Homo sapiens: one gene and its partner. The protein of the gene in region 1 purifies or fractionates together with the protein of each later gene. This does not show direct contact. Each region holds a gene or a part of one and is shown in the gene's direction. Other genes may lie near its edges.

Region 1 (4,053 bases):
TCTCTCATCCAACCTAAAAATAGGATTGTCCAGGCCTTGAGGGCCTTCTGGAAGGCGCCCCCATCAGTCAAAGCGCTTGCAAAGTGCTTCCACCACAAGAGCAGAGAGGCCGCGCCATGCCTGTGATGCTGCTAGGCACAGCTTGTCTGAAAGAGATGCAACCAGGCTACCTCCCGAAGAACCGACTTGTTGATAATCTTGCCTCAAACAGAGGAGTTTGCAGATGGTTGAGGAAGAGCAGTGGTAGAAATGTTCTCCCCAGGGCCGTCACAACTCCTTCCCAGCCGCAGCCTAGTGTTGCAAGAGAGTTTCTGCTGCTGGGACTACAAAGGAGAGGACAAGGCCCATGGCCGGGAGAGGGGCGGCCTGCACCTTTCAGCCCCGGCGCCCGGGAGAGCCTGCGGGGAGTGCGGCGGGGAGAGTCCTCAAGGATGGAGCGCAAAAAAGGGTCTCAAGTCAGTCCTCGCCACCTTTCCGCAGCCTCGGGAGAGGCTTGGGGGAAGCGCAGGCAAGGGCCAAAACCCCATGGAAGTGGGAATCCTCGGCCTCCAGGGTGAATAAATAATTAAGCGCCCAATACACAATAGCCTCGCTAGATGGAGACGAGGAATCACTGCAGCGGCGCTGGCGGCGGCGGCGGGGGGAGCGCAACCCCGGGCGGGAGGCGGGAGAGGCTCTGGCTCGGCTCACGTCTGTTTTCCTTTTTCGTGGATTATTTATTTCGCCTCCACCCACGGCTTTGCTGCCCCAGCGGGAGCTCCCTGCCGGCGCCTCCCGCCGCTGCCTCTCGCGGGCCAGCGTGAGGGTAGTAGAGAGCTCGGGCACCCCAGTGCCCCGGGCAGCCGCGCGGCGCCACCAGGAAAGGCGGGGAGCCAACGCGGGCCCGGGGAGGGCTCGCGCGGCCGGCTCCAGGCGGCGTGGAGGAGACTTTCCCCGCCCTCTGCCTCCGCCTCGGCGGCCAGCCCTGGCCCTGGGAGCGGGGTGCCGCCCCTCCCGCCCCGCGCGCGGCTAGGCGCAGTCCGGAGCCACCGCGCCCTGCGCCCCGTGCGAGGACGCCGCTCCTGGTCCTCTGCTCAGCGGCCCGGGAGGCCCAACCGGCGCGCAAACTTTTGCTCCAGCGCCGGGCGCTCCTCCCCGGCATGTGAAGCCCCCGGGCGCCCGCGCAGCCGCCAAGGTGAGGACGGAGGCCCCGCCTAGAGGGCGGGGGACTGGGGAGGCGGCTGGCTTTAAATGGGGGCTGTCCGGCTGCTGGGAAACAGAGCTGCCGCGGGGGGAACGCGGACCTCTTTTCCCCGAGCCCAGGGTCGGCTGGGGCCGCCGCCAGGCAAGGTAGCGTGAGGCGTTGGAAGGGTGCGGGCGGAGATGGAGGCGTGGGGGAACCCACGCCCGGGAGCGGGAGATCGGGGCTGGGCGGAGGCGTGCAAAGGGGCAGCGCACGGAGGTGCCTATGTTGCAGTGTGCGCAATGAGGCCGGCTGGGCAGTGTGGGTGCAGGCAGCGTGAGATTTCTTGGGGCCGTGCATGCAGGGTCAGCGAGGGTGCAGGCAGGAGTCGGTGGGTGTGCACGGGGATCAGTGTGTGTGCACGGCTGTTTCTGTGGTTGTGCGCGCAGGTGAGTAGTGCCCGCCGGGTTTGAAGTGTGCTCACAGTGAGAGTGAGTTGTATGGGGGTTAATGGGGCGCAGTAAGTGTGCTTGGCTGTTTCTGGAGGTGTCCATGGGGCCAAGGTATGCACGCAGTATTCTGGAGCTGTGCGCGGAGCTAAAGTGTACACGCGGGGCTCTGGGGATGTGCGTAAGAAGAGTGTGAATTCTGGGACTGACGAAGAGTCAGTGAAGGTGTAAGCTGGAGTGTAAGTGCAGGCTTGGTTTACTAGGGTGCCCCTGGGTGCGGGGCGTGCCCGTCCGACCCGGGCTGGGAGGTATATTGGTGCGCGGCGGCGGAAGTGCCTGCGCGGTGTCCGCCTGACCCTAGCCTTGCTCTCCTGACAGTTCGCCCCAGGAGCGGGCGCCGCTGGCCGAGATGCTCCTCCGGGACTTGGTGCTGCGCCGTGGCTGCTGCTGGTCCTCGCTGCTGCTGCACTGCGCGCTCCACCCGCTCTGGGGCTTCGTGCAGGTGAGACGCGCCGGCTGCGCACTGGCTGGGAGGGCCTCCTGGGTAAGGGGCGAGCTGTCCCTTCCCTCCTGAGACCCTGGCCTCTTGCAGCCACCCCACTGATTGGTTCTCGGAAGAGCTTGGGAAAAGAAAAGCTGCTACGGTCCCCTATACCCTACCCCTGAAAAGATAAGAAACTCCAAAGAGAGGCTTCGATTGTGGCCTAAATCCTGCAGGACCGGGCTGGCCTTGGAATGGAAAGGGGCTCAGAGAATACCTTCCAATGATAACATTCTAGGGCAGAAATTCAGCAAAGAAACAAACTTACAAAGAAAAATGATCCCAAGGATATATATTATTTCTTTCTCACCAGAACCACTGATGAACTTCAAATTAGCTTTCTTAAACTGGTTTTCAACACGGAAGGCAGCCGTGTTTCTTATAGGTATCAGAGTTGAGGATGTAGACAGATAATGCATGGTGGCCCATCTGTCAGGACTGCCCAGGGTTGAATCTCTCACCCTGGGTCCCTTAAATCCCAGGGCAGAGGCCAGGCAGCCACTAACTGGAGTTACCTCTTAGGGTCAGAGAGGGGTTTCAATGGGGTGGTCCCTAGTCCCCCCCAGAATGCGCATCGTCACTGGTACAGTGGAGAGGTGACAAGGTGGACTTCGATGTCAGCTCTGGAATTTGAGCTTCAGCTCTGTCCCTCACCAGCTGGGAGGCTTTAGGCAACCCACTTACCCTCTCTGAGAGTTAGTTTCTTCTTCCTGACTGTACTATTGTAAGTACTTGATGAGATAAATGCATGTAAGGATTACTTAGTGCAGTGCCAGGTCCATGATGAAATTAACCAGTAGTGGTTGCTGCCATTGTTGATAGGAGTAATAGCAATGCCGTTCTTCTGCCTGGCTGACCAGGTACTCTGTTTATCACTGCGTGGTCTGTTTGACATTTTTTCTGCAGGCTCTGGAGGACATTTTCATTGTTTTGGGCATTGAGGATCCACTCTGGGGTATTTGTAGCCTCATGTGCTCCTGATGGCATTTTGGGGTTTGGGGACAATTCACATGGTTGCTCTGTACTAGTAGGGGTGACAGACCAGGAAAAAAAGGGATGCGGGCAAGACCACTTGCCAGTCTACCGAGGTCCATGAGCTGCCCCAAATGATGGGGCCCTGCCGAGAGCTTGCTCAGTCAGTCCTGCCTGGATGATGGCCTGGGTGACTGCCCATCGATAGCCAGGTTCAGACGCTGCTCAGCACCCCCTACTCCCAGGCCCCATCTTCTGCTCTCTTCTCTGGCTTGCCTCCGTCTCACAATTGTTTTCCTTTTGGAATTGACAGCTTTGTCTAATGTGTGAAACAGCAGTTATTAAACTCAGCTGTGCCTCCTCAGGAAACATGATTTTGTCACTTCTAAACACTTTAGTGGCTTGGGACCAGCTTCGCTTGTTCAACTTTTAGCTGAACCTCAGATATTGAGTTCACTTCGTTTTTAGATTCATTTGTTTACACTTTTCTCTCTTCCATAAGACACCTTCACCTGGGGTGGGAAGCAACGTAGTGAGGTTGTCAGTCTCCAGGACTAGAATTCTGCTGTGTAAGCTAGTAGGATCTAAACAGAAGACCCCCAAGCACCATGCACTCCTCCCAGAAGAAATAATTTTGTGAAAGCAGTTCAGTTTTTTAAGTGTCCTTCAGCCAGGCAGTACTTACACAAGCAGGGGTGTGTGTGTGTGTGTATGCAGGGGTGTCTGTGTGTGTGCAGGGGTGTGTGTGTGTGCGGGTGTATTTCAGATGCTCTCACTCAATACAAATCAATTTTCATAAAAATCAATTTAAAAAGGAACCCTCCAGACAAGTAGAATGGGTAAAATCTTGGCTTGAGGCTCTGGAAAAATTAATTTACAAATGATAGGGACAGGGAAATCAAGGGAAAGGGGTTTTGGAATGAATGGAT
Region 2 (4,003 bases), about 23 Mb from region 1:
TAATCCAACCCCGTCATTTCCCACTACTTCTCATTAGGCTATAAAATCAAACCACTATGCCCTAAACACACCTGAGATTTCAAACATCAGGACTTCCGCTGGATTTCCTCACTCCGGCTATGCCACTTCCTTCTACTTCTTCATGCCAAATCCTACCCAGCCTTCAAGGTCCTCAAATGCTATTTCCTCCATAAAGCCTCCTGATCTACCACTACTCAAAAAGCTACCTCTCCCTCCCCCCCTCAGGGCTGCACAGCACTTTTCGTTCCTCCCCAATGACAGGCACCATCTGTACCTGGTCCAGCGACTCTACCGGTGGGTGGTGTATCTTCGCCTGTAGACTGGGAGTTTCTTGAGGTCAGGGGAGTGACTTGCCTATCTTTGCCTCTTAGCCTTAGCAGATCCCCAGTAGACAGCTGACACTCAGAACCGACCAAAAGAAGGAAGGAATGGGACCTCCTGAGGAAGGGCACAGAACTGTCCTGTAAATGGAAACTAGACCGGACGCACGCCAAGCCGATGACCCACAGTAACAGGTGTTCTCCATCTCTGATGTCTGTGATTCATCCTGCACAGCTGCGCGCACACAGCACACGCATACACAGGCTCCCAGAATACGGCGCCCCACACGCTGTACCGCCCGTCGCGTTCTGGACGCCCCGGCGACCACACACACCGAGACACACCTCAGCGACAACCTGGATCCACAAAAAGGAGGCCCTGCCCCCTTAAAAAATACTAACACCTTACTGCAAAGAACTAGCAGCTACGGCTTGCGCCTGCGCCCCTTGTTCCCTGCCGCACCTTTTCTTGTAGTTAAGAAATCTATTTCTGCACGCATTTCGTCGCCGCCGCCCCCCATCCCTACACGCACGCACACACACACACACACACGCACACACACACACTCCCCTTCCCCTACACCTACCCCCCTCCCCCCACCTCCTTTCAGACTAGGCGCGCCTCGCAGAGCGGGATTGAATGGGAAAGAGCGGGGCCGTCTTTGTCATTAATCCTCCCCTCCTTCGGGCAAGCCAAGCTTCTTCCGGGTCAGCGACCATCCCCGCCACCCCACTCGGGGCCACGGTCCCCCCGCAGCGCTAGTCCCGGGCCCGCGAGCACCGGCCCCCGCCACCCGCAGGTTGCGGAGGGAGGAGGGCGGGAGCGGGCGGCGCGGAGCCGGGAGGCGGGGGAGGGGCCGGCGTCCGAGGCGGCGGCGGCGGCGGCTGGAGCAGCCTCTGGCAGCAGCGGGGAGAATGGGAGTGCGGGGCGCCAGACCGCCGCGGGGTGTCACGGCCGCCACGAAGCCTGCGAGGCGCGGGGCCGGCGCCCGCGGCTTTTAAACCCGGGAAGGCGCGGCGGCGGCGGCGGCGGCGGGCAGATCGCGGCGCGCACCAGGCGCCGGGGCGGCGGCCGAATGGAGAGAAAGGGCTCGGCGGCCGGGGCCAAGGGGAACCCGAGCCCGCCCGCGGCCGGAGAGGGGCAGCGGCCACCGCCGCCGCTGTGCGTCCCGGGCGGCGGCGGAGGAGCCCCAGCGAGGGGCCAGGTCGGGGCGGCGGCCGAGCCGGCCGAGCTCATCCGACGAGCGCACGAGTTCAAAAGCCAAGGGGCGCAGTGCTACAAGGACAAGAAATTCCGTGAAGCCATAGGCAAATACCACCGGGCGTTGCTGGAGCTGAAGGGGCTGCTGCCGCCCCCCGGGGAACGGGAGCGGGACTCGCGCCCGGCCTCCCCGGCTGGGGCCCTGAAGCCCGGCCGCCTCTCGGAGGAGCAGAGCAAGACGGTGGAAGCCATCGAGATCGACTGTTACAACAGCCTGGCAGGTGAGCCGCGCCGCGCCCCCCGCGCCGCGGTCCCCGTTCTTCGGCCCGGTCCCTCCGCGGACCACTGCGGCGCTCCCGCGGTGCAGATTCTCCTGCTGTGACTGTGTTGCTCTGGGGAGAACCCGGGAGGGAGGCGCTTTGGAAAAAGTGTGACTTTCAGGATTATGCCTTTCAAAGGCCATAATCATCTCTTGTCCCTTCGCTAGCATACATCGTAAATCTCACCTAGAAATGACTGGAAGGGGACCCAGCTGGCCTGGCTATGGCTGCTGCTGCTACTGCTCACCAGTGGACCTGGGTCCAAAATGCGGAAGCAGCGCCCGGGGTGGGCCCCCGCAGCCACCGCTAGCCCAGCTTTTTCCTGCGGGTGGGTCCCAAGGGAGGCCACGCACCTGTCTGCTCTCCTTAGGTAGCATGAGCACCAGGATTGGTCCTCGCCTTTTCCCCAACTAACCGCATCCCTGTAGGTAAGATCTTCCCCAAGTTTTTTGGCCCCAGTAGCAAAGGGGAGTTTGACACCATGCCTTCAGCATCTTGAGCAAAATGGATTCCAGAATGCCACTTTCTTCTCTCTGAGCTCTGCTGGGGCTCCCGGTTGCCAGGTGAAGATCTCTATCTCAAAAGAAGCTTGGTTCATGGTTGGGCTTGAACTATGCTGCATTCTCCCTCTCCTCCCTGCCCGTTTCTCACTATGTGTAGCATCAGTCCTCACGCCAGCTGGCTGCTAGGGGTGAAGGAAAAGGGGGCCCTACTCTTGGGCAAAGAAGGTGTACATTCCAACATTCCCTTTGGGGATAAGAGCCAAAATCAGGGATTTAAAAATTGTTTAATTTAGGCGCAGGAATATTTAAAGTCTCTTAAAAAAAGAAGAGTCTGGCTCTTGCTAGGGCCTTCCTGGGAGAAGGTGGGAGAGGTTGGCAAAGGCAACTTAAAAAGCATTCTCTCCTCTTCTCTTGCCCCATTTGGTGAGATTCTGGCATGGTCAACCTTCTCCGACCAAACAAAGGGCAGTTCCTCCTAGTTCCTGACATGTGAGGTTGCCTAAACTGTCTATGGACAGTTAGAGCAGGGTAGGGGTGGAAGAGTGACTGGGTGTGGCAGGGAATGGTGAATGTGTCTGAAGCCGAGGCAGTGGTGGGGGAGTAAAAATAAATACTGGCAATTCTGCTCGGTTCTTAAATGCAGATCTCTCTGTTCCCTCTGAGGTTTCTAGTACCAGCCTACCTCTGTCTTCCCAGAATGCCATGCCCAGTCTCATCTTTGATCGGGTAAAACCCAGGCTACGGAGGCACTTTGTAAATTGTAAAGTACTTTACAGACTTAAAGGATTAATAGAGTAGTAGTAGCAGCAGTTGGAGGAGTGGTGGTGCTAATAGCAATACTAGCAGTAATAGTAGCAGATAAAATTGTAGTACAGCAAAAATGGACTCTTTCAATCCATTATAAGATACAGCTTGAGTCCTTTAGTTCCTGTAAGTCTTTGGCATACTGTCTGCTGCCCCATGAATAGTTAAAGGGCAGAGCAGCCATGGGTGGAGGACGAGGCACTGTGGATTGCTAATGCGGTGACTTTGGAGTGGTAATGGAATCTTATATTTAGTCAGTATTATCCATGGACATTCTAGGGCTGCCAACCAGTGGCTAGCACTGCCTGCCCTCCACCCCAGACGTGGTTACTTTTCCATGGTGAAATCAAAGATGTGTCCTTGGTCAGGCCAGCCCAGTCAGGGCGGGACTGAAATCTGGATAGCTCCACCACTCCCATCCTCACCTCACACACTGGAAAACTTCAACGGTGAGAGAATGGAAAGTAGCAATAGCAGATATTCCCCCTCTGCTGCCTTCTCCAGTGCTCACCACTTATATTAATAATTAATTGTGTGTGCTGTTAGGCATCCTCCATACATTGTCTCTTTAAATCTTTATAATCTATGTAAAAGAAATATGATCATCAGTTTTGCAGAGAAAAAGCTCAAGGCTCCGGAGCCATTCTTCTCCAAAGGCAATGTTCTTGTCATCATACTTTGATGCACAAAGTCAGCATCCTCTGGGCCTCTGTCTCACTTGAGCCCAATTTCAGGTGGGCTCCAAAGCCTTGCACTTTGGAAATTCCTTTGGGAGATCTCAGGCCTGGTAACCAGGAGAAAGAAATAGAATACTTTGATTCAAGGCTCTAACGG

Evidence for each region. Proteins that work in one complex are often made in the same cells at the same time.
Region 2: the proteins of PRIMA1 (region 1) and TTC9 purify together in Homo sapiens (affinity purification with mass spectrometry; one large-scale study listed by BioGRID and IntAct). This does not show direct contact.

The regions. Positions count from the first base shown.
Region 1 is NC_000014.9:93,785,686-93,789,738, reverse strand, and holds the start of PRIMA1 (proline-rich membrane anchor 1 precursor), read left to right. Parts: upstream 1-1,253; 5' UTR 1,254-1,329; intron 1,330-1,989; 5' UTR 1,990-2,020; coding exon 2,021-2,113; intron 2,114-4,053. UniProt on the Homo sapiens protein: Required to anchor acetylcholinesterase (ACHE) to the basal lamina of the neuromuscular junction and to the membrane of neuronal synapses in brain. Also able to organize ACHE into tetramers.
Region 2 is NC_000014.9:70,640,713-70,644,715, forward strand, and holds the start of TTC9 (tetratricopeptide repeat protein 9A), read left to right. Parts: upstream 1-1,203; 5' UTR 1,204-1,417; coding exon 1,418-1,823; intron 1,824-4,003.